Homo sapiens: one gene and its partners. The protein of the gene in region 3 binds, or shares a complex with, the protein of the main gene of each other region. Each region holds a gene or a part of one and is shown on either strand. Other genes may lie near its edges. The genes, in order: DPF3, SMARCD3, ARID1A and PHF10.

Region 1 (2,603 bases), on a different chromosome or scaffold from region 3:
TCTGTGGGGGGTGGCCCAAGGGAAGGCTCCTCTGGGGCCCTGGATGGCACATGACTCCCAGTGAGGAGAATTCTGGTGATCTCTGTGGAGGTAGTCAGGGACACAAGGCTTGGCTGTGAGTCTGGTTTTAAAGTGCGTGACAGCCTGAAAAGCATGCAGGGGTTTGGTCCACTCACCTACTTGAAAGCCTGTGGGCAACGTTCTTTTGAGCCAAGACTTCTCTGAATGGCCCTGCTGGTGGAAGGGGTGAGGCAAAGGCCTCTGACTTGGACCCTTTCCACACCAGACTGGCAGCACTTCCCCCAGGCAGCCAGTGGTGGGCCCTGAGCCCTCAGGTCCCCAGCTCCTTGAGGGATGAACCTGGGAGCCCAAGAGCCAGTGGCTGAGCTCTGAGAAGGCTCCATCTCCCACCTGCCCTTGAGCGCGCTCTCAGGCTGAGAACACGGTCTCATCAGGCGCCTTCCTGGCCTGATGCTGTGCTGTCTACGTCACACGGTCGATTCACAAAAGCCAGAACTAGACCTCAACCAGGTCATCTCCCCGTTGCCAAGTGGGTTCAGGGTGAGGGCAATTTGTAAGCTCAATTTCTCTGACAGCCAAGACATGGAGCATCTCTGCTAAGAAGCCAAAAGAAATTGGTTTTCTTCTTCTCATTGCTGAAGCCCCTCTGTGTCTCTTCTCAGGGACAGGCTGGTCCAGTGGCTTTGGTGAGGGCGCCTCCATTTGTGAACGCTGGGATTCCTCTGGGTGGGCTTTGGCAGGTGGCTCCTATGGTAGGAAGGATGACCAGGTCCCTGGGAATGAGCTGCCTACCTGCTGCTCCACGAGGAAGCTCAGGCCTGCACAGGCTCCACCAGGCCTTGGATGCCCTCTAGTTGAGTCAGAGACCCTGGAAACACACTGAGATCTCCAATTGCTGCCTCCATTGATGTCTCTAGACCTGCAGATACGAAGCAAACCTGGGATTGCTTCTTCCAGGTATGGGCACCAGAGAGGGAAGCCACTGCAACATTTTATCCCCATCATTCCAAAATGCTTGCTTGTCTCTTTTACCTCACACTCACAACTCCTTCTGAGACTCTCAGTCATAAAGGAATGACCAAGAGAGTGGGTCTCCAGTGAGAGAAATGCCTATGAAAGAGGGTTTCCCTTTTTGCTCTTTTGAACACCCTCCCCACTGATCCTTGGGACCCAACGCCGCATTGCCTCTTGCAGATGAGGTTTTGCCTTGGGCTGCTTTGGTACTTCAGACCAGGACTGAGTCTGACACAGCTTTCATGAGGTTACAGAAAAGGGCTACAGATTTGGGAAGCTGTGTGTAATGGTCTTGAGACAATATCTCCATTTGGCCCACCCTGGCTTCTCTAAAAAGCAACGACAGCAACAGACAAACAAAAAGCTCCCACCTCCCACCCCGTTAGCTGTCCTCCTCCTTCACTGTGATGTGGTTGCGGTCTCTGTAGGTGTGTGTGCCACCCTTGTCCTCTGTCCTCTGGGGATGTGCCCTTCCCACGTGTGTCAGGTTCCCACTCTTTCGTGGTTCCTAACGTGAAGTGCTGTGATGTTTCTGCCCTGCCTAAGGAACGTATCAAGCTCTCTCAGTGTTTCAGTGTTGGAGATTGAGGCTGTGCCACATCTTCTGCCATCCTAAGGGGACATGATGGTTCTGTGATTCCCAGAGAGCTGGCAGATTGTGACAATCTCCAGGAGAACCTACAGATTGGAAGCAGCCCACACCTGATGTGGACTCCTGACCCGGGACTCACTCTTCATTCAGAAGACTGGTGGCCCACGTGCCAGGACCACCCCACCTCTCTTGCTGCCTTTTCTCCTGTCCTGATGGGGTTCTGGGAGGGAGACCTGTCGCTGATGAGATGAAGAATGTGGGGATCGAGCAGCCTTCTTCTTTGGGACCCCTCGATATCCCATGGAATGCTCGCACGTTCTCAAAGACTGAGTCACAAGCCCCTACCCCTTCCTTGCTGTGGTTAGTATCTTGTTCTGTGATTGGTTAGCAATGTTGACTACCCACGTAGTGAATCTTTTGTCTGCAATTTAGAGAATGTGTAAACAAATAAAAGGCTTTAAAACTCTTGGAAACTCTTATTTTCCCTACGGATAGTTAGGACCTCACTTGCAAATGTAGAGATCCTGTGGGGGTAGAGCCCTTTCATGTTGGGGTGTGCAGTAGGACTGCATTGTGTAAGAGAGAGAGAAAGAGAGAGAGGGAGAGAGAGAAACACGCATGCGTGTGCATCAGGCTCCAGAGAAACACTAGTGCTTTCATGGTTGCAGGGAGACTCCAGGAGCAACAAATTCCAGGTCTCAGTTGCTGCCTGGTGATGAGCTTCTGGCCACGTCATACATAGCACCAGGGAAGCCACAGTCACCGTGACAGCTTTCATGGGCACAGTGGGCAGCATAGCTTCAGGCCTTAACTGAGAGCTTCATCTGCAGGAGTAGAGCAGCTCCTTTTCTGGAGACCCCTCAGAGAAGCTCCTAGGGCATCCTGAAAGGAGCCCCCTAGATTTTCTAGGAGAAGGGAGGTTGATGAATCAGAGATGACTCACAGGAGAGGTGGGGGAATATGGTTGGGGAGAGAG
Region 2 (7,035 bases), on a different chromosome or scaffold from region 3:
GGCGCCCGTTTCTGCTTCACCCCCGCCCACCCCCAGCGCCCCGGGATGCCGTCTGGAGCCCGGATGCCCCACCAGGGGGCGCCCATGGGCCCCCCGGGCTCCCCGTACATGGGCAGCCCCGCCGTGCGACCCGGCCTGGCCCCCGCGGGCATGGAGCCCGCCCGCAAGCGAGCAGCGCCCCCGCCCGGGCAGAGCCAGGCACAGAGCCAGGGCCAGCCGGTGCCCACCGCCCCCGCGCGGAGCCGCAGGTGAGTGGGAGGCCCGGCGAGGAGGGGGCGTGCAGGGGCGGGCCCTGGGGGACCCGCAGGGACCAGGTAAGCGAGTAGCGGGGATTGGAAGGGGCGAGGAAGAATGATTAGCAGGGAGCGAGGCTTCCCGGGTCGAATGCCCTCTGGGGAGGTAGGCTTAGGGGGCACCGGCCTGATTCTTTTGTGTGCCCACGGTAGAGACAGGCTGCGGCGTCGGCAGCCGGTACCGCTTCCCTGCACGCTCCCCTCACCCTTCTCCTTGTCACCTGCTCAGTCCTTCTCTCCACCCATCAGGTTCTGGGTGATGCTTCAGTCTTTGGGGTGGGGGCGGGGCTTCCAGTGGGACTGAGGGCAGAGGTGTAGGACTGTGTTCCCCAAAGTGTGGTTCTCCGCTGAGCCTTCCTGCCGGCCCCCGGGCTGTTTCAAAGCCACTCCAGATTTTCTCAATGGGACTCTCTGACCATGGGGGTGGAGCTTGGGGATTTGCCCTGTGGGTAGGTGGTCTCTACCCAGTCCTGCTCTTAATTCTTAGGCACTCTGGCCCAGGTCTGCTCTCAAGCCACCAGGGCCAGCCCATTTCCTTGCTTTCCTCCAGCAGCTGGTGGCACCCTCAAAGCCCCTGCTGGCTCCTGGCAACAGCAGTGCCCCTCCGGGTTTCAGTATTTAGCCAAATACACATGCTTTTTTTGCACAACAGATGGGTTTCTATAAAAGGTGTAATATCAATTTTACCTCATTATTATTTTTTACACATCGGGGAAAAAATCACCACTTATAGGAATCCCATGATGAATTCTTTAGTAAAGTGCATCGTCATTTTGTACAGCAAATGGTAATTCCCTGATTTATCTTGTATAAATGGAGAGTTACACATAGATAATCTGTTTAAAACAAACCAGACCTTTAATGAAATCCGCTTGTTAGCCTTAGATTTCTGCATAGGGAGGGGGCAGTGCTTGAGAACACCACACGGGGGCAGTATGGAGCTATTCTCTGGGCTGCGTTTTCATCTCTTGACCCGCCAAGGTTTTTCTGGGGGTTTTTGGGTTAGTTAGAAGCAGCTAGTGGGTCAGAAAGAGCCCACATCCAGCTGCTACTACCCCGGGCCTAGTCAATTTGGCCTCAGCCTGAAGTCACACCCATGCACATTCTGGGCGCCTATGGCTGCAGCATGTCCCTCACCCTGTTGCCAGGTAGTCCCAGGGCATGAGTACCCCCAGCCCATCAGCGTTCTCTTCCAAGCCCAGGGTGGCTGGAAGGGGTGCAAGTCCCGCCAGCTTCACACCGTCACCTCCCGCTCCATGGATAGGAAGGAGTTCGTCTCTCTCCCTCCCTCTGAGCTTAGGCCCCTTTGGACAGGGCACCCCCTGCTTTCCAGAAAAGGTCTTCAGAACCTGGCTTCCCTCTCCTTTGTCCTCCCTCATCCCCACCTTTCCTCAAACACTTCTGCAGCTCGCATCTTTTGGCAGCACCGCCCCCACCAGCCAGTCCCTCCTGTCTAAATTTCTCTGTCCCTGAGGATGTGGCAGGGTAGAAGGGGGCTCCCAGGCCAGAGAATGGATGGGTCACTCCTGTGTCCTGAGAGAGGACAGAGCACCGGTTCCACACACCACCGTCACAGCCCTTGGGCGGGCAGACAAGTGGGCTGTGGGAACCCCAGCCAGGCGGGCGGAGATGTCGGGATAATCTAGCAGGTGGCCTCGTTACGCCCAGATCTGTCGCCATGGTAACCTGGTTTTTTCTTTAAAAAATGTACAGTGCCAAGAGGAGGAAGATGGCTGACAAAATCCTCCCTCAAAGGGTGAGTGCCTTTCACAGCAGCCCCCAGCCCACCCCCCACCCTTTGCTGCTCCGCCCTCCCCTCCCCCCTCAGAAGCAGAGCTTCAGCATCACAGTCACTTTCACTTTTTGTTTAAAAAAGCTCATTAATAAGTGAGGCTCCGCAGGCCAGAGGGAGGGGGTGAGGTGGAGGGAAGCAGCAGAGCCACTGGGGCCAGAACACAGGGGCCTGTCAGGGGGTTTGATCCAAGTGGTACTATAGAGCTGTGGGACCAGGAGGGGGCAAGAGCTAGGGGATCAGAAGCTGCCAGGCAGAATGAAGGGGATAGAAGGTGGCCAGAGATCCTGAGCATCCTAAAGAGACCCAGGTCCAGCTGGGTATGGGGACAGCACAGTTGGGACAGGTGTGGGGGCTGAGCAAGGTGCCAGCAGAGAAGAAAGCACCGCTGTCCAACTGTCTCAGGGATTGAGCCCCTACTAGGCACTTTGCAGGGGCCCAGGGGAAGCCCAGCAGGCATATGATATGGACAATGACAAGATGAGGAGACTAAAGGCTAGTGCTTGCTGAGCTCCACCGTTGCTACCTCCTCCCTGATGATGAAACACAAGGCACTTCCTAAAGGGAGAAGCAATTGTTATCCCTACACAGCAAGGCCCCTACTGCTGGATAATGGCATCCTGGGGAGAGGTCCTGTTCCCACTGTCAAAGCTACATGCCCAAAAGTAGGATGGCTCCCCTGACATCTTTTGTACCCTAGGATTGCACAACATGCATACATTCCATGGTACAACCCTGGACTTGAGCCTCTGACTCCTGCCCTGCTCCTCCTTCTCCAGATTCGGGAGCTGGTCCCCGAGTCCCAGGCTTACATGGACCTCTTGGCATTTGAGAGGAAACTGGATCAAACCATCATGCGGAAGCGGGTGGACATCCAGGAGGCTCTGAAGAGGCCCATGAAGGTGCCTTAGTTCGGGGGTAGGAAGGGGACTCTAGAGTTGTGTGACCAGGATGGGGAAGCAGGGTGGTCGGGGTGGGAGCACACAGCATTCGCCCGGTTCTGCACTCTATTTCTACAGCAAAAGCGGAAGCTGCGACTCTATATCTCCAACACTTTTAACCCTGCGAAGCCTGATGCTGAGGATTCCGACGGCAGCATTGCCTCCTGGGAGCTACGGGTGGAGGGGAAGCTCCTGGATGATGTACGTCCCGGCCCAGGTCTCTCCAGGTGTCCTGGGGTGGGCATGGGCTGCACTGAGAACAGAACAAGGTGTCTGCACTAAGGGCTAGGGAGTCAGCCCAGGCTGGGTGGAGGGGCAGGCCTAGAGACATTCCAAGTGCAGAGGATTTCATCTAAGCCCACTGCCCTGTCGGCTGCCAACTTGGCCTCCTTCTGCTCCTCCCACCTCGTCCCTGTTCTGCCCCCATGGTCCCTGTTGCTCTCCCACAGCCCAGCAAACAGAAGCGGAAGTTCTCTTCTTTCTTCAAGAGTTTGGTCATCGAGCTGGACAAAGATCTTTATGGCCCTGACAACCACCTCGTTGAGGTAAGACCAAGAGCCCCTCCGCCCTTGAATTGCCACCCTCCCACAGGCCAGAATCCCTGAAGAACCAGCACAGATTTGGGTCAGGGACCACCCTAGAGTCCTGGGCCCCACCACTCCAGATGGGCCTTTGGGAGACACAGCTCTTCTCTCCTGGACAGTGGCATCGGACACCCACGACCCAGGAGACGGACGGCTTCCAGGTGAAACGGCCTGGGGACCTGAGTGTGCGCTGCACGCTGCTCCTCATGCTGGACTACCAGGTCTGCACCTGCCATGCTGCCCCGTACACGCCACACAAGGCCCTCAGGGCAGGGCTAGGTCCCAAAGTGGTGCATCTTGAGAGACCTCCTTCCCCTCCCAAACCTATCCTTCCCCAGGGGCATGTTTCCTCAATCAACACATCCCCCTAGTCCTGAATGGCCTGGCCCTGGGCTCCTTCCTTTCTCTCCCTTTGGTCTAACTTTCACAGTCCCCTTTTCCCAGCCTCCCCAGTTCAAACTGGATCCCCGCCTAGCCCGGCTGCTGGGGCTGCACACACAGAGCCGCTCAGCCATTGTCCAGGCCCTGTGGCAGTATGTGAAGACCAACAGGCTGCAGGACTCCCATGACAAGGAATACATCAATGGGGACAAGTATTTCCAGCAGGTAACCTCTCTCCTGAACCCTGGGATCTGGGGAGCAGGCGGAGTTCTCCAGCAGGGGAAGTACCTCTACCAAGGTAACTACCACCCCTCCCTTCTAGATTCCTGAGTAGCAGAAGCAGTACACAGTCATGGTCTTGGAGCCAAGAGACCGACCAGGATTCTAGTTCAGGCCCTACTGTGGATTAGCTCTGTGCTGCAGCCAATCCATGTTAGCCCCCCCAAGTTAGGAAGACCTGGAAACCCTACAAAGCCAACCGCTTTCTGGAATGTAATATTCTTGGCACTTGGAGTTAGGATCCCCAGGTTCTAGTCCTGAGTCTGGACTCTGGGTAAGTGACTCAGCGATTCTGAACCTTGTTTCCTTATCTTTGAAGTGGAGTGACAATACCTGTCCTATCTACTCTCCTGGGCAGTTAGGAAAATCAAATTGCTGCAAAAGTGATTGAGCAAAATTCCACCAAAACAGAGAATATTCTTATTAATGCATTTAAAAATAAATACAGCAGATAAACCTGAGGAGTAAAAATAGCAGTTGATATTTATTGGGCACTTACCATGTGCCAGGCACTGTCCCAAGCACTTTATGTGTATTAGTTCACTGACTTCTCACGGCAGCCCTGGGAGATAGGTATTCTTTTCATCCCCACTCTAGAGATGAAGACACTGAGCCCTGAGGTGTTAACTTGCTCCAGGTTGCATAGTAAGTGGCAGAGGCAGGACTGATACATAAGCAGGCTGACCCAGGGCCCGCACTCTCAACCCCTGCCCCACACTGACCCACCCCCTATCTTGTCAGCCATACCGGTGGCTCCACCACCAGACCAGCCCACCCCAATCCCATCCCCATGCGCACTGAGGAATCAGACTTCCTCTCAGCTTCTTGTGGCCTTTCTAGAACAAAAGGATCTACAACTGCATGATGATCTCTTCAAGAAGAGTGATCTCTCTCTCCCCAATTGTCCTGCTTCAGATTTTTGATTGTCCCCGGCTGAAGTTTTCTGAGATTCCCCAGCGCCTCACAGCCCTGCTATTGCCCCCTGACCCAATTGTCATCAACCATGTCATCAGGTGAGGTGGCCCCAGCTTGCTTCTCAGACCAGGGAATGATCTCGTTCCTGCCTTCCCTGCCCCTCCCTCTCCTCCCACTCCCATCTCTTCTCCCTCCCTGTTGGATCTGCCCCAGCCCCGGGGCCCTGGGGCCGTATGGGGGCATCGTGGACACGAAGGGCTGGACTTCCCTGGCAGCGTGGACCCTTCAGACCAGAAGAAGACGGCGTGCTATGACATTGACGTGGAGGTGGAGGAGCCATTAAAGGGGCAGATGAGCAGCTTCCTCCTATCCACGGCCAACCAGCAGGAGATCAGTGCTCTGGACAGTAAGGTGGGGCCCAAGCCCAGAGCTGGAGTGGGACATTAACCCAGAGATGATAGAGGAGACTTTTCTGAGACCAGGGTGTGGTTGCAGATGAGCAGTCTGGGTTAAATTAAAAAAAAAAAAAAAAAAGAGACCAGACTCTGGGCCAATGGGACACACATGGCCCGTCCATGCTGCTTGGAGCTGAACCTCATTCCAAGTTTAGTTCTGCCCATCCCCTCCTCCCCTGGGACTTCAGAGAAATCAGGGGCTCTGAGGGGTTGTCCTTCACAGAAGAAACCCCCTCTCCCTCCCCTTCCCACCCGCTTCCTTTCCCCTCGTCTCCCACATCACCAAAGCCAGGTGGAAAGCATCTATCTTTCTACCTGCAGATCCATGAGACGATTGAGTCCATAAACCAGCTCAAGATCCAGAGGGACTTCATGCTAAGCTTCTCCAGAGACCCCAAAGGCTATGTCCAAGACCTGCTCCGCTCCCAGAGCCGGGACCTCAAGGTGAAGAGGGAGACTCAGGGAGTACTGGAGTGGAAGACAAGCACAGCGGGAAAGAGAGTAAACGTTGTACTCCAGGGGCAGGTGAGGGGATTCAGGGCTCAGGGCTCACCCCACGCTCCCTCCCAGGTGATGACAGATGTAGCCGGCAACCCTGAAGAGGAGCGCCGGGCTGAGTTCTACCACCAGCCCTGGTCCCAGGAGGCCGTCAGTCGCTACTTCTACTGCAAGGTATGCAGGGACCCTTGCCCTGAGGCTTCCCCATCCTCAACTCCAAGAGAAACCTCCCTGTTCAGCTTGTGGGCAGCCCTCGCAGCTCCCCACAGTAAAGCTTCACCACGCTGCCTCACCATGCAATGGCCCTCCCTGCTCCCAGATGCTCTTTCAGGGCAGGCGGTGTCAGTAGGTGGGATTGTCCTGATCACTCACCAGAACACTGACACCTGCTCCTGTTCTCACTTCCTCTAAAGATCCAGCAGCGCAGGCAGGAGCTGGAGCAGTCGCTGGTTGTGCGCAACACCTAGGAGCCCAAAAATAAGCAGCACGACGGAACTTTCAGCCGTGTCCCGGGCCCCAGCATTTTGCCCCGGGCTCCAGCATCACTCCTCTGCCACCTTGGGGTGTGGGGCTGGATTAAAAGTCATTCATCTGACAGCAGCCGTGTGGTCATTGGAAACTGGGGAGGGGAGGGGGAGAGAAGGGGAAGGGAAGAAGGTGGGGAGGCAGTGGGTCCCTCGGGACGACTCCCCATTCCCTTCCCTTGGATTCTTCTCCTTACTCAATTTTCCCTAGACCTAAAAACAGTTTGGCAGAAGACATGTTTAATAACATTTTCATATTTAAAAAATACAGCAACAATTCTCTATCTGTCCACCATCTTGCCTTGCCCTTCCTGGGGCTGAGGCAGACAAAGGAAAGGTAATGAGGTTAGGGCCCCCAGGCGGGCTAAGTGCT
Region 3 (7,556 bases):
CAAGGATGGTCTCGATCTCCTGACCTCGTGATCTGCCTGCCTCGGCCTCCCAAAGTGCTGGGATTACAGGCGTGCGCCACCACGCGCGGCTCAAGCTTTAAGTAGGTTTTTCATACAGTATTTTTTGTATTAGTTGGTGAATACAAATCTTCAATGAGCTCAGCAGAAATAAGAAATCCAAATTTCCTGATCTGCCCAGTGGTTTTATGAAACCCCAGTCCCGTTTTTTTGTTTTTTGTTTTTTTAAAAAATATTAGTAGTAGCTTTACTCAGTCTTTTCCACAAAAATAAGCTCACTGGTCAGCAAGCTCACCAGTGAGACTGGTGAGTGAGGCTGTACTTAGAAGAATATGAAAGCCTTGGTATCTTTTTCCTCATATTAGACTGGCCCTGGGTGTTATTTTTGTTTGAAACCTGCCACAAGCCAGACCAGCCTGGACTTTTACTTATTTTATTTTTTATTTCAGTTTTGGTGGAGGTGGTGGTGAGGGTAATTTTTAATTTATATTGAGACAAAATAAGCTGGCTGACTTATGCCTGAGGCTCTTTTTTTCACAGCTACTTTGGGGAAAAAAAGTCTCATTCAGAAATTAACATTTCTCAAAATGTGTTCCTTATTCTGAAATATAAATGACCCCAAATTGCTTAAGAGTTTGAGATGAGTGGGGAAAAGATCTAGAAAAGCATTTATTGTGTGCCAACCAAGTTTGAGGCCTCCTGGTTTGCTCCTTTGGGATTCTAGATCCTTGGCAGTCACAGTTTTACCGCGAAGAGCTGTTGAATGCCATTCCGAGTTCATTCCATTTTTCTCCGTGTGTGCATCCAGTTCGTATTTTACAGCTCCCGTATGGGAGCCGGTAACATAATGAATTGCCTTGACTCTCGCTTCAATCCACTTTCCTCGCTTAATATGCAGCCCAAAGTTTTGCAGCTCGCTGTCAGATGGTAGTGCTAGACTTTCACACCGATCCCAAAGCCTCCGCTGGGGCTGTTTCTTAACACGGAGTTACAAACTTTAAGAACAGACAGCTCCAGACGGAAATCCACGCCAGGCTTTGAACTCTGCTTCTGGCTTCCGTCAACTGACATAGTTGCCCTTTTGCTCAAACTCGCAGCTCCAGTTCGCACTCGAGAGAGCTCTGCTGGGTGTCTGCTGCTGTTCCGCGGCGGGAACGTGTGGGGGCAACAACCTGGCGCTCCAGCGATTCTCCACGCCTTAGTTAGGAATCTAAGCAAACCCTCGCTAGGGTCCCTGGGCTTAAGACGACTTCTCCCACAAGGATTGGGTGGAGGAAGGAGCCGAGCCCGATCTTCTGTTTGTTTGTTGAGTTTTGTATTTCAGACATTTAGGGGAAGCAAATTGCGAGAAAGGAAGGGCTGTCTTCCCTGCAAACGTTTCCCTCTCCTAGCAAACCCTCCAGGCCTCGGTTCCACATTTTGCAGTTGACTCTCTGGATTTTAATAGGTTGTTCCCTTGTCCTCGGGCCCAATCCATGCACGCTGTGCAGCCGGATAAAATGGGAGCACATCCTCTGCCATTTTCAGCCGGTTTGTCCTGGCAGCCCTGCCCCCTTCCTTGGCTGCTCTGCCGCTGGAGTTAATACGCCCAGAAACTCCGCCTGATCCTCCAGGCCTCAAATCCAGTCCGCGTTTGCTAAGTGCCGTGCGGTCGGGGACGGCGATAAGAACTCTCCTGTGAGGGAGAGCTAGCGAGACTTTAGTCCGGTTTCCATGTCAACGATTCAGTCCATATTTGCCATCAGGCTGTTGGCCGAGGTGCTTTCGCGAGGGTAGCGCTGTCCTAGTCCTAGTTCTCCAATCTGCGCCGGGATTCCTGAGCTGCCTGGGTGTGGGGTTAAAAGGCAGGGGCCGTGGGGGAAAAAACTCCACCGAAGGGAGGACCCACTGCCCCCAGCCGGGGTCTCGCTGCTCGGGCCAGCCACGTGCCCAGCTCCTCCCCTCCCCCGCTTTCCCGTTGCCACTGCCCCTAGGGAAAGCTGATGGGCCAGTTTCTAAAAAAGTTCCCTCAGCCCAACATTTCCTGGGATCGTGGTGTGGGGCTCTAAAAGTAAAAGTGGAAGAGAACCCTAGTGAATTAAAAAAAAAAAAAAGTAGAGAAATTCCACATTATCTCCTCCAACCCAGGTGGATAGATTTTTGTGCACTTTACCTTATTGCTAGAGAAAAATGGTGACTGTTTTCAAAACAGCTTGCCCACGTGTAGGGAAGGAGATTTTTGGCGCTTTCCATATTTCACAGCCATTGAAGAAAGGGGATGAGGGCTTTCTTTGGAGAGAAATCCATTCTAGCTTCCAGATTTTCACTGGGCTCCAGGTTTCCCATTACACCCCAGCTCTAAGGAAAATGGCAGAGTAATGGCATGTAAAAAAATCCTCATTTGTGTGCAGGACTCAGGACTGTTTGCCAGCTCAGGGGCAGTTGATTAAATAGCCAAGCTCTATTTATGAGGCAGCCTATAATTTGGTTTCTAGGACCTAATGCACCGGGGAGAGTTGTTGCCCCTGAGGACTGTGAGTGAAAAGAGGGCACTGGCCCATACCAGTCAGTCGGATCTTCTTGGTAGGCTGGTTTGGTTCTTGGCTTGAGGCCGGGGGAGGGGAGAAGAATAAAACTGTGGGATTTTTTTTTTTTTTAAATCTCATCACTCTTAGATTAACAGGAAGGTTTTGCCTTTCTGGTGTAGGATGCAGTAAGTTTTCTTGGGGAGAGAAATGAGTTCAGGCTTTGGAATTATTCATAGTGACCAGGGACATTGCCAGCACTCCCGGGTCCTGCATAATCTAAGATAATGCTCCTGTGGCCATGAAGTCTCCCTTTACAAAATCTGAGGGGGAAAAGAGATCCTGGTGTCTAGGAACACTGGCCTGGGCCTTTCCCAAGGCAGCCTTGGGTCTGGTGAGGAGCTGGAATCCCCTCTGGCTTTTGTAGCCTGTCATATCAGAACATTCCAAGTCAGCCTGAGGAAGAAAAGGCTGCTGCTGGGATTTGGTGGGGCCTGTAGATCAGGAGAACACTGGAGCTTTCTGTGTATGTCGATCTTTTCAGATAAACCTGGCCTTCTACCCAACTCCAGCTCAATCGGGGTCTCTTAGAATGTAATGGTAAACTTTAAACAATCTTTACGCTACAGGATAGAAAACAAATCTGACAAGCATCCATTTTCTAAGTGACTTGTTGGACTGTGCCTTTTCTTCAAGGAGAAAATGGTTTCCATTTTCTGCATCTCTCTTCTGTAATGGTTTGAACACTCAGGTTCCTGCAGTCCCTGGAGCCTCTTCTGTGGGTTTTCAGTATTAGAAGGTACTGTCTTTGGAGACTGGGGCTACTTGTCATGGTAGGCTAAGTTTTCTTAAGAGGGAGTGAGAAACGGTGTTTAGGTTTTCCTGCTGGGTAACTGTTCTATGCTCCTAAAGCAACTTCAGTGGCCTCCATTTTAAGTTAGTGGTGAGATGATCAGTTTTGACTTCAAATCCATTTTGATATTCTGATCCCATTGTTGAATGTGCTCACAACTTGATTTTTTTTTTTTTAAAGGCAAGTAGACCGAAGGCAGCTTTGGTGACTCCACTTCTTTTTAAAGTCACCCTCCTCTGCCCTCTGACTTTAAGTGACAGGCAGTTCCCTCCCCTCTCTTTCAATTCTGTAAAATGGGGATAATCCGGACCTCATGCCCCCAGAGCCTTGTAAGGACCGGCTAATGAGGGCAGGCGAGTGGGAAACGAATCGTCTGAACAATGATCAGTCATTCTTTCGGGCTTGCAAAGAGGGTAAAAAAGGTTGGGTCTTTAGCGGGGTCCGTAGAAGGCTTTGAAGACGAAAAGTGCTGTAGAGGTGCTAAGCAGCAGCCAACGGACCGGGCCCGCTGCCAGGGGGTCAGGGCTGGGCCGAGGCGGCCGCGGTCTCAGGCTCTGGCCAATTTTGCAGCCGCGGGTAAAGTTCACGCTGCCCGCTCCCCTCGGTACGGCCGGGAGGGGACAGACCTGGATAGGGACGCCGGGAGGGAGGCGGCGCAGGCTCCAGAGATGCGCGGGCTCCGGGCCGGGTTTTCTCCGAAGCCTTCGGCGGCGGCGCTGCCTAGCGAAAGCGGCTGAGGGCCTGCCGCCGCCGCGGCTTGTTCTCTCCCCTCCTCCTTTGTGAAGGGAAGGGAGCGAGTCCGTTCCACGGCCTGCGCCCGCTCCGCTCTCCACTCCGGGTTTGCCAGGCGGCCGCGACGGCGCTGGGTAAAATGGCAGTGCTGAGCCTCGTGTCGGAGTGAGGGGGACTCGGAGGAGAGTGGGGCGCTCTAGCCGCTCAGTCCGGCCGACCGCTTGCTCGCCCGCCCGCTGCCGCGCAGCAGCCTCGACCCAAGCCGCAGCTGGCGAGGGGAGGCAGGGCGCCGGGCTCGGCCCGCGCTCTGACTCTGGCTCCCGGCGCCCCGGCTGCTGCCGCGCGCCCTCCAGCCCGCCCGTCCCGGGTCCCCCTCCCCCCGCTCCCTCCCTCCCTCCCCGCCCCCTCCCCCTCGCCTCCCTCCCTCCCTCCCTCCTCCTTTCTCCGGCAGCAGAAAGCGGAGAGTCACAGCGGGGCCAGGCCCTGGGGAGCGGAGCCTCCACCGCCCCCCTCATTCCCAGGCAAGGGCTTGGGGGGAATGAGCCGGGAGAGCCGGGTCCCGAGCCTACAGAGCCGGGAGCAGCTGAGCCGCCGGCGCCTCGGCCGCCGCCGCCGCCTCCTCCTCCTCCGCCGCCGCCAGCCCGGAGCCTGAGCCGGCGGGGCGGGGGGGAGAGGAGCGAGCGCAGCGCAGCAGCGGAGCCCCGCGAGGCCCGCCCGGGCGGGTGGGGAGGGCAGCCCGGGGGACTGGGCCCCGGGGCGGGGTGGGAGGGGGGGAGAAGACGAAGACAGGGCCGGGTCTCTCCGCGGACGAGACAGCGGGGATCATGGCCGCGCAGGTCGCCCCCGCCGCCGCCAGCAGCCTGGGCAACCCGCCGCCGCCGCCGCCCTCGGAGCTGAAGAAAGCCGAGCAGCAGCAGCGGGAGGAGGCGGGGGGCGAGGCGGCGGCGGCGGCAGCGGCCGAGCGCGGGGAAATGAAGGCAGCCGCCGGGCAGGAAAGCGAGGGCCCCGCCGTGGGGCCGCCGCAGCCGCTGGGAAAGGAGCTGCAGGACGGGGCCGAGAGCAATGGGGGTGGCGGCGGCGGCGGAGCCGGCAGCGGCGGCGGGCCCGGCGCGGAGCCGGACCTGAAGAACTCGAACGGGAACGCGGGCCCTAGGCCCGCCCTGAACAATAACCTCACGGAGCCGCCCGGCGGCGGCGGTGGCGGCAGCAGCGATGGGGTGGGGGCGCCTCCTCACTCAGCCGCGGCCGCCTTGCCGCCCCCAGCCTACGGCTTCGGGCAACCCTACGGCCGGAGCCCGTCTGCCGTCGCCGCCGCCGCGGCCGCCGTCTTCCACCAACAACATGGCGGACAACAAAGCCCTGGCCTGGCAGCGCTGCAGAGCGGCGGCGGCGGGGGCCTGGAGCCCTACGCGGGGCCCCAGCAGAACTCTCACGACCACGGCTTCCCCAACCACCAGTACAACTCCTACTACCCCAACCGCAGCGCCTACCCCCCGCCCGCCCCGGCCTACGCGCTGAGCTCCCCGAGAGGTGGCACTCCGGGCTCCGGCGCGGCGGCGGCTGCCGGCTCCAAGCCGCCTCCCTCCTCCAGCGCCTCCGCCTCCTCGTCGTCTTCGTCCTTCGCTCAGCAGCGCTTCGGGGCCATGGGGGGAGGCGGCCCCTCCGCGGCCGGCGGGGGAACTCCCCAGCCCACCGCCACCCCCACCCTCAACCAACTGCTCACGTCGCCCAGCTCGGCCCGGGGCTACCAGGGCTACCCCGGGGGCGACTACAGTGGCGGGCCCCAGGACGGGGGCGCCGGCAAGGGCCCGGCGGACATGGCCTCGCAGTGTTGGGGGGCTGCGGCGGCGGCAGCTGCGGCGGCGGCCGCCTCGGGAGGGGCCCAACAAAGGAGCCACCACGCGCCCATGAGCCCCGGGAGCAGCGGCGGCGGGGGGCAGCCGCTCGCCCGGACCCCTCAGGTACACAGCTGAGTGGGGAGGGGGCTGGGGCGAGCGTGGTCCTGGGGGTGGGTGGCGGCTGCGGTGAGCGGGCCACAGCCTTGGGCTCCCCTCAGTCCCGGGCCCCCACTGCTGGGGAGCTGCCATTGTCTGGCTCTTCTCTCTTAAAATGGCTGCCTGTCTGCCTTCCTCTCCTTCCCTCCTTCAGCCTTTGTGTTGGGTTTTTCCAGAGGTGTCTGCTCCTCTTTTTCCTCTCCCCTGGTCCCTTCGAACTCCAGGGGTCTTGATGGGGGTGCGGGGCAGAGTGTGCGGGGAAGGGCCTGGCCGGGGGTGAGGGGGTGAGGGGGCGCTGGGGGCTCAGGTTAGGAGTGTAGGCAGTGGTAGGAGCCCAGGAGTTGAATGAACGTTTCTTTGCTCACCTGCCGCTCCTCTCCGTCCCCCGGCCTTCCTCTGGGCCGCCCCCCATCTGTGCTTTCAAAGAGGGCCCCTAGAGCTCGAGGGGACCTCGAGGGGAGGGCAGGGGACTGCTTGGGAGCTGCTAGAGGCCGGCTGCGGTTCACCTAGGGCAGCCCGGTCCATCTCCTGTCTTAGGCTCCGCCGGCCCAGTGGCCTGGGCTTCTCCCTGGAAGTGCTGGTAAACAGCTGAGTGATTGGAGTAGTAAGTGCAGATTGCTTTGGTTTGGGATTTGAATTATGGAGGTAAAATCCTTCTGTCAAAGCCAGGAGACAGTTGGTCTTAGGTTGACATCCTATCTGTGATCTGATTGGCTCCCCATCTCCTGCTCTTGGCCATTTATAATTGCCTCTGATGTAATGGTACAACAATCCTGATGAGCTCATAAACTTTTACACTCTGCTTTTCTGCCAGTGATAACCCAAACTATCGCTGCCACTATCTGCCTTTTATTCCAGAGCTGAAATTGGCTGTGACCTTGAGGAGGGAGGTTTAAGTAGCAATACTGTATCAGCAAGAGCAAAGCCTCAGACAGCCTGCCCTTGTTACATTGTGCCCAAACAAAAGAGGAGGCAATGGCATTTTGCTTGTACCTTGGATTTATTTTGCTTGTTATGTTTTATGCAGCCTGAAATGAATTCTGTGTTGTCAGAACAGTAGCTGAGTTTTTTCTCTACAATGGGTTTGCTGTTTGTTTTGGTTTTGTGACTTTCCTGATGGTATAAATGACTTCTTTGATGGCTCTGAAGATGCATTTATCTTGAGTAATTTTGACACTGGTTGCTTTGCAGAATTGAAATGATTTTACTGGGCTTTTTATTGAGTGGCAAATGTGGGATCTTTATGGGGGGCCAGAAAACAGTTTTTGTTATTTTTTTTAGAACTGGGAGCTTTCTGAGGAATTTTATATTAGGTTCAAGCGGTCTGTTTTAAGGAAGACTGGCCTCATTCTTTGTTTACATGTTGAATCTTGTTAACACTTTCTTTTGTTAATTGAACTTTGGAATAGCAGCTTAATTTAAAGGGAAGCTGGTGTCTTTCATGATCTTGAGGGA
Region 4 (7,035 bases), on a different chromosome or scaffold from region 3:
ACTTATTTAATACTAATAGTTTAAGTTAGATACTGGCATAGTAAATACTCTAATATCTTTCACTAAAGTCAGGGAAGTAACCAAACAATATTAAATTCTAAAAACAGAACTCCTCACAGGAGATTCTTTACAAAACAAAAGCCAAAAGGAGTAAAACACAAGGGTAGTCATTCACATTCTAGAGCAATTCAAGTTCTACAATCATTAAAATATACATTAAACACCTATGATAAAAGGGACACCAAAAAATTCTAGGTTTATTTCTAAGTTTAAATCATAATGATTTGTTAAATCACTTAGTTTTTCTTACCCAACAGCCTTCATCTTGATGAAAAGAGGGAAACATGAGAGAAGGGGAAGAGAGACAGCTTTGTAGCATTTTCTACGATGAATGCTGCAGCTCGATATACAAAGCATCTGCCCTCTCTAAGAAGCCACAGTGCTGGCATCCAGGACTTTACACAGCAGATAACAACTGTGGCTTAGAGAAGCCAGTCTCAAGTGGATTGCACAGTTGAGGGAGGGGTTAATGTGCAGCACTCTCCACAAGACCAATGGAGCACACTCCTATGTGTGTCTGGTTTAGACAATCAGTTCTACTTCAAATAACTGCAACATCATCAGAGTATCACTATTGACAAGAAAACTGAAATACTCATCCTAATAGCTCTCAGCATCTCAAATAAAAGGCTCACAGTACACTTACTTTTCTACTTGAAAAACAGCCAAAGATAAGACTTTCATGGTAGCAATAATATAGTATAGATTTTAATTATTGTATTTATAGGCCGGAATCCTAATAATTATGCTTTAAATTTCAGGTTAATGTAACCTAAACAATACTGTTCTATGAATTAAGGGCAAGCACTAGTGAATCTTATTAAGCAAAGCATCAGATACATTACTTCCTTGAATCTCGTACTTTTTATATATAAACTATGACCTTTAGCTTGAAGTACCCTAATATTTAGGCACATCTTGGTTTATTAATACTTTTTATAAAGAGGTTAACTTTTAATAAGCATGTTCACATTAATGTATGATGACTAGATACTGGTTGTTCCCATCTTTGAAATACCTGAAACATTTTTAGGTACTAAAAATGTTCACAGATTATGTAAAATATAAATTTTGCATATCCTACTTGAGTACTATTAAGTTCAGTTAATCCATATGATTTCTTGTATACTAAATCAATGATAGTGTTGAATAGCTGATTTCCAGCCTGTATTAAAACATCTATTTCAATATTCTCTCTTTTTAACCCATGATCAATCAAGCTTACTGTTGCAAAGATCTACTTAGCACTCAAGAGTTAACAGGACACTGTGCTTTGAGCGGCCACTTCCATTTAAAGCTCTTAGCAGACCAGTAGAACACACTCATTCATGTATACTGCTTCTGAAATTTCATCTTTGGAGCTCACTTGCTTTCAGTTATTAAGCATTAATTTATATAAAGAAATTACATAAGCTATATATGTAAAAACAAGTACAAAAATCACATAGCTGCAGCCTATTGCAGCCACCCTTGGAAGCCAACCCTTGCTGAATTAAGCTTAAAATTTGCTTGCTATAGGCTACAAAAAAAAAAAAGAATTTTTAAGTTAATTACATAAAAGCATTTCCTAATAAAATATGAAATACACTAACTTAATGTCGCTTTTTTTACTTGAAGAAAGGTAAATGAACATGTTAGAACGTGTTCTAGTTAGTTTGAGGGAAAGGTGACTTACTTCAGCCTGTTCTTGTGAATTATTTACCACAATCACAGTTCTGACATACAAGGTGTTTAACAATTTCACTTGGCAAAACTTTCTCATCAGCTTACTCTAAAATTTTCCTTCAATACACCTTCATAAGTGCAATAAAAGCATGTTCTAATACATTTCAGACCAAAAGAATCAAAAGGTAGTCTATTTTACTACCACCATCCCAAATATGAAACTGTACAGCTAATTCTTCCTTTTATGATATTCTTAAATCCCTATATGCAAATAAGGCTACTCATCTCTCACCTCACCTTTTCTTCAGAAGAAAAGGGAGGGGCAGACAGAGGGAGGAAAAGTTCAAAATATAATAATAGTTGCTGACAACCTACTCCTTTACTCTGAGGATAATCAGATCAACAAGTTAACAAGTATGTTTTAATTCTTGCCATAGAATCATATAGGCTCTTTACCAAGGTTATGCTAAAAATCACTACAATGTAAGTAACAGGTTTTATTATTTTCTATCCCAGAGTTAGCTAAATTTAGCATATGGATCAAATAATCCTTAGATTAAACCCAGATCTTTCTTAATGAAAGGCACTAAAAAAAATGCAACTTAGTCTAACAGTATATCCACTCATACTTTATAGCTCAGCAGCTTTAGCTACACTAAATGCTGGGGCATTTAAAATGCCAAATAATTATGATCTTTACTCCAAGGAAAGAAAATATAAACTTCTGCCTATGAAATAATGTTTTAAAAACCCATACTTGCCTGGTTATTCTTTCAAAGAAAAAAAAAGACTTATAAATTGTACATATACAGAAAACAGAAGGTAAACCATAGCCAAAAGTGACAGAAAAGCCACCAAGGAAATAAAGCAAAAAAGAAAGCAGCGGACAAAGGGCACACCATAGAAGAACAGCTAGTGAGGTACAGCAGGCAGAAGCTCCACAATCGTGAAAGTCAAGTTAAAATATTTCAGGGAGAGGCTGGTCAGTAAAGAAGCTGAGTCAGGGGCTTTTTTCTTCTACCTTGTACCCAGGAACTGACTTGGACAGTACAGAACGTTTGGGACCATCTTTTCTTGGAGTGGCAGCTTTGTCTTTTGATTTCTGTCTTCCCTGGAAAGAGTCCTCCTGGCTGTCAGGAGGGCTTTCCCCTTCAGATACATTGCCAGAGGAGCTGTCCTGGAGTTTAAAAGGCAAAAACAAAGATTCTTTGGAATTAAGACAAATTTGAGTCTGGATTTTGAAAACTATGGAAAATATTCAAAGAAAGTTTTAAAGCTTTATCATTTTAAAAATAAAAAGATCATTCTAAATGTAAGAAAGCTTTTTCCAGTGGAGACTAAAGTAAGTTATGTTAAAAATCATTCCTCCTTCTTCTAAGTATATTATATAAAACTGATTCCATATCAGTGCCTTCATCAACTTTGTTTTCTGACATAAGTCACAAAAACACAATTATCCGCTTCAGCTACTATTACGGCACACAGCTTCAACATCATTTTCCGTCACAAGGGAACATATTTGTTTCATACAAAAATATATTGTTACAAATAAGTGTGGGTATTTTCACTGAGTACTAAAAGTCATTAAGAAGGTCCTTCAGGAAAAATGAAGCGCTGCAGTTAGGAAAAAAAAAAAAAAGTCCTTCAAGTACACATTTGTGTTTTCACAATGTTAAACTATGCAGAGCCAATCCCTCAACTATCTACAACAGGATCTGAAATATTTTATATATTCAAGGTTTAAGACCTCAGTATCTGATCATTTAATTCTTCATTTTATAATTTAAAATGTTCTAATTAGAACTTTCATATAAATTACAAAAATTATAAATTAAAAAATTAGGTTATCTAGAGCCTCCCTGATAAACACACACTGACTAGAAACATGAATGTATCTACTTTATCTTTTTTCTGGGTGTCCACTTATATACATAAAGATACCGAGACTCACACATTACCCCCTACCTCATTGTGCCCTCATTTTTTAAAATACAAAACTGGATTACACTGTGTGTGTATGCATATGTGTATTTTGGTATTTTTTAAAAGCATTATGTGCATTTTCTCACAATCATTAAATATTCTTTGAACTGCATTTCTATCCTATAAATGTAATATAATATTACCCACTGTGGGCATTAAAATTTATTTGTAACTTCCAGCATAAAAAATACTGTCAACACTCAAATGGACCTTTTTTTCTAATTAAAATTTTTCAGCATCTGATTAAATCCTTAGGATAAATTCTACTAGTGGATTTGCTAGGTCAAATACTATGGAACTTAAATTGGTAAGACTGTCAAAATGCTTTCCCATAATGTTGGATTAGTTTACACTTTTCCTAGCAGTATGAAAGGAAGTCAGCTTCATCACCCTTTGCATGCCATAGCTCCCCTTTTAGCAACATGACAGGAGAAAAGTTGTGTCACCACTTTAATACTTGAACAGTATCTTATTTTGCATAATATGTATTATTAAAGATGTTTTAGAAGCTGTTGGTGACAAGGAAATAATGTCCATTCAATGGTAGCACAATCTCACATTTACATTGGCTTCAATGAAAAGTTTGAAATAGCCAGTTACTTAAAACACAATGCTAAAGAAATTCAAAGCCCTATGTCATCACTGGGATCAAAGCCCCAAACCATCATTGGGATTTTATTCTCCTTCAGGTGCACAGAATACACCAACTGCCCACTGTCTTGCAGGTGCATTTTGCTACAAAAAAAAAAGTCATACAGGAAAACCCAACAAATTGTACAACATATTACTAAACATAATATTTTCCTATAGGAAGCATAAGATTAAGCAAATGCACTCCCCTCAACTAAGAAAACTACATTTCTGTGTCAAGAGATCAAATTCTGTTTTGTTCAATATTTTAAGCTAAAGAGACAGCAAGTTGAATAAATGATTGTAAGCTAATTTTCCATACCCTTGCCTAAACTGCTCATGGTAACTACAAAGGGGCGATTTTAAGCATAAAGCTTACCAAAGGCCATTCACTGCTTGTTTTTATCAAAACATACTATAAGTAACTTTTATTGATGAATACTTTCTGGAAATTACATGCAACCATCCTTTTTCAAGGAGAGGGTGATGACAGAAATTCAATGTAACAAAAATTCAAAGAGAAAGGAAATGCTTCCTACTAGAGAGAAATGTTCTCACCGAAGTGCCTTTATTTTTCCGTTTCTCATCACCTCGACCATCTTCGCCATCATCTGAATCACCATCACTGTCTAGAGCAGGGAGCTCAGGATCCAGAGGGGGCTCATACAGGGCTGTGTTTAATGGCAGATACCGCAGCTCATCTGGTGAGTACCTGAAGTTCAGAGAGTTTATTTTTGGTTTCCCTTTATTATTAAATATAAACAGACTCATCTTTGACCTATGAAGATAGCCTTAAACTTCTTGAGTAACCCCGAAGACTTTTGAAAACTAGAGTACTAATTTTTCATTTTTGTCATCAAGTAGGGTTAATAAAAAGCCTGAACATCTTTTCACTAGACTTATGTAAAATATGCATTTGATTCTTACTAAGAGATAATGTGCCTCCCCTCTTTGCCCTCAACCCAAAAAAAGAAAAAAGTAAATAAAATGTCAGCAGCCCCAAGTCTGGCTGCCAGCTCACATCCACCTCGACCACTGTCCCAGGTCTTTGCTACTTCTCTGTGCTGTCACTCCATTTGTAAAACAGACCTAATAATAGCATCTACCGCATACAGTTGATATATATGCATTAACTTATTTAATGCATACATATCACACCAGTGCATGGTACATGATATTACTTAAAATAATAACATAGAAAGCAAAATTTTTAGTAACCAATTATTGTAAACAAATTTGGGAAGCATGTATTCTAACAAATTTAATCATCTATTTTGTCTGAAACTATATTGGCAATCTCTTCCCCTAGGTCAGACAGCACTGCTTCGTGCCACCTCCATTCTCACCCTCAGTAGCCCCCATTCAGGAGGCAACCCTAGATGAAGACTTCTCCAACTAAGACAACACACCAAAAAGCAAAGGGGTTAATATACTTGCATATGACTTTTAATAATTTGCTGATGCCAAAATAAAATTTTTAAAAATTAAAGGCCGGGTGCAGTGGCTCACGCCTATAATCCCAGCATTTCGGGAGGCCAAGGTGGGCAGATCACCTGAGGTCAGGAGTTCGAGACCAGCCTGGCCAACATGGTGAAACCCCGTCTCTACTAAATATACAGAAAATTAGCTGGGCAAGGTGGCGGGCACCTGTAATCCCAGCTACTCGGGAAGCTGAAGCAGGAGAATCACTTGAACCAGGAGGCAGAGGTTGCAGTGAGCCGAGATCGCGCCACTGCACTCCAGCCTGGGCGACAGCGTGAGACTCCATCTCAAAAAAAAAAAAAAAAAATTTGAAGAAAAACTTTTAAAAAATTGCTGCTCATGATTTAAATTTGAATTTAAAAAATCTTTTTTTATTTAAAAAATTTCTGCCCAAGATTTGACTTTCAAATGGTGTGAGTTATGATACTATATTTTAAATTCTATTCTCTAAAAAATAGTATATTATGAAAAACATACGGTTCCAGAGTAAGGCTTAAGGTTGAAGTAAAAGCTGAGACTTTAAAACAAAATGGGCTGGGCACAGTGGCTCACACCTTTAATCCGAGTACTTTGGGAGGCCAAGGTGGGCGGATCACTAGGTCAAGAGATCAAGAGCATCCTGGCCAACATGGTAAAACCCACCTCTACCAAAAATACAAATAATTAGCTGGGCGTGGTGGCATGTGCCTGCAGTCCCGCTATTTGGGAGGCTGAGGCAGGAGAATCACTTGAACACAGGAGGCAGAGGTTGCAGTGAGCCGAAATCACACTACCACACTCCATCCTGGGTACAGAGCAAGACTGTCTCAAAAAAAAAAAAAAGAATCTGTTAGCCCTGTTTTTTTCAGTTACATTTAATTTGGGAATAGGAGATAAGTAACATTTAGGGTCCATATTGGAGCAGCAGCCAGGCCAGGTCAGCAATGTGGCTGGGGCACCCAGTTGCCCATGCCTGCCCCTCTCCGCTCCTTCTCTCATCTTCTCTGCAGTAAAAGTCAGTGTTTCTCAAACTCTAACCTGCACATGAATCACACAGACATCTGTTAAAATGCAGACTCTGAGTCATAGGTCTAGAGTTGGGCCTGAGATTCTGCATTTCCAACAAGCTTCTGAGCAATAACAGTGCTTTGGACCACGGAACATACCCTGAGCAGTGAGGTGCTACAGAACCCCCAGCATCTGTCTCTAACAAACCCAAACAGAATGGGCAGAGAC

Evidence for each region.
Region 1: ARID1A (region 3) and DPF3 share a complex: the UniProt entries of both Homo sapiens proteins name them as parts of the neuron-specific chromatin remodeling complex.
Region 2: ARID1A (region 3) and SMARCD3 share a complex: the UniProt entries of both Homo sapiens proteins name them as parts of the neuron-specific chromatin remodeling complex.
Region 4: ARID1A (region 3) and PHF10 share a complex: the UniProt entries of both Homo sapiens proteins name them as parts of the neural progenitors-specific chromatin remodeling complex.

What each region holds. Positions count from the first base shown.
Region 1 is NC_000014.9:72,608,524-72,611,126, reverse strand, and holds the end of DPF3 (zinc finger protein DPF3), read left to right. Parts: 3' UTR 1-2,093; downstream 2,094-2,603. UniProt on the Homo sapiens protein: Belongs to the neuron-specific chromatin remodeling complex (nBAF complex).
Region 2 is NC_000007.14:151,238,673-151,245,707, reverse strand, and holds the end of SMARCD3 (SWI/SNF-related matrix-associated actin-dependent regulator of chromatin subfamily D member 3), read left to right. Parts: intron 1-36; coding exon 37-248; intron 249-2,006; coding exon 2,007-2,049; intron 2,050-2,864; coding exon 2,865-2,987; intron 2,988-3,104; coding exon 3,105-3,227; intron 3,228-3,475; coding exon 3,476-3,571; intron 3,572-3,729; coding exon 3,730-3,831; intron 3,832-4,054; coding exon 4,055-4,216; exon of another isoform or gene 4,217-4,544; intron 4,545-4,728; exon of another isoform or gene 4,729-5,185; coding exon 5,186-5,283; exon of another isoform or gene 5,284-5,398; coding exon of another isoform or gene 5,399-5,460; coding exon 5,461-5,596; exon of another isoform or gene 5,597-5,689; intron 5,690-5,955; exon of another isoform or gene 5,956-5,961; coding exon 5,962-6,084; intron 6,085-6,210; coding exon 6,211-6,312; intron 6,313-6,551; coding exon 6,552-6,605; 3' UTR 6,606-6,928; downstream 6,929-7,035. Other genes in the region: CHPF2 (chondroitin sulfate glucuronyltransferase), read right to left, coding at 7,027-7,035. UniProt on the Homo sapiens protein: Involved in transcriptional activation and repression of select genes by chromatin remodeling (alteration of DNA-nucleosome topology).
Region 3 is NC_000001.11:26,691,473-26,699,028, forward strand, and holds the start of ARID1A (AT-rich interactive domain-containing protein 1A), read left to right. Parts: upstream 1-4,542; 5' UTR 4,543-4,744; coding exon of another isoform or gene 4,745-4,931; coding exon 4,932-6,068; intron 6,069-7,556. Other genes in the region: translation initiation factor IF-2-like, read right to left, coding at 3,807-4,493, 4,745-4,933. UniProt on the Homo sapiens protein: Involved in transcriptional activation and repression of select genes by chromatin remodeling (alteration of DNA-nucleosome topology).
Region 4 is NC_000006.12:169,707,490-169,714,524, forward strand, and holds part of PHF10 (PHD finger protein 10), read right to left. Parts: intron 5,051-7,035; coding exon 4,897-5,050; intron 2,903-4,896; coding exon 2,747-2,902; intron 1-2,746. UniProt on the Homo sapiens protein: Involved in transcription activity regulation by chromatin remodeling. Belongs to the neural progenitors-specific chromatin remodeling complex (npBAF complex) and is required for the proliferation of neural progenitors.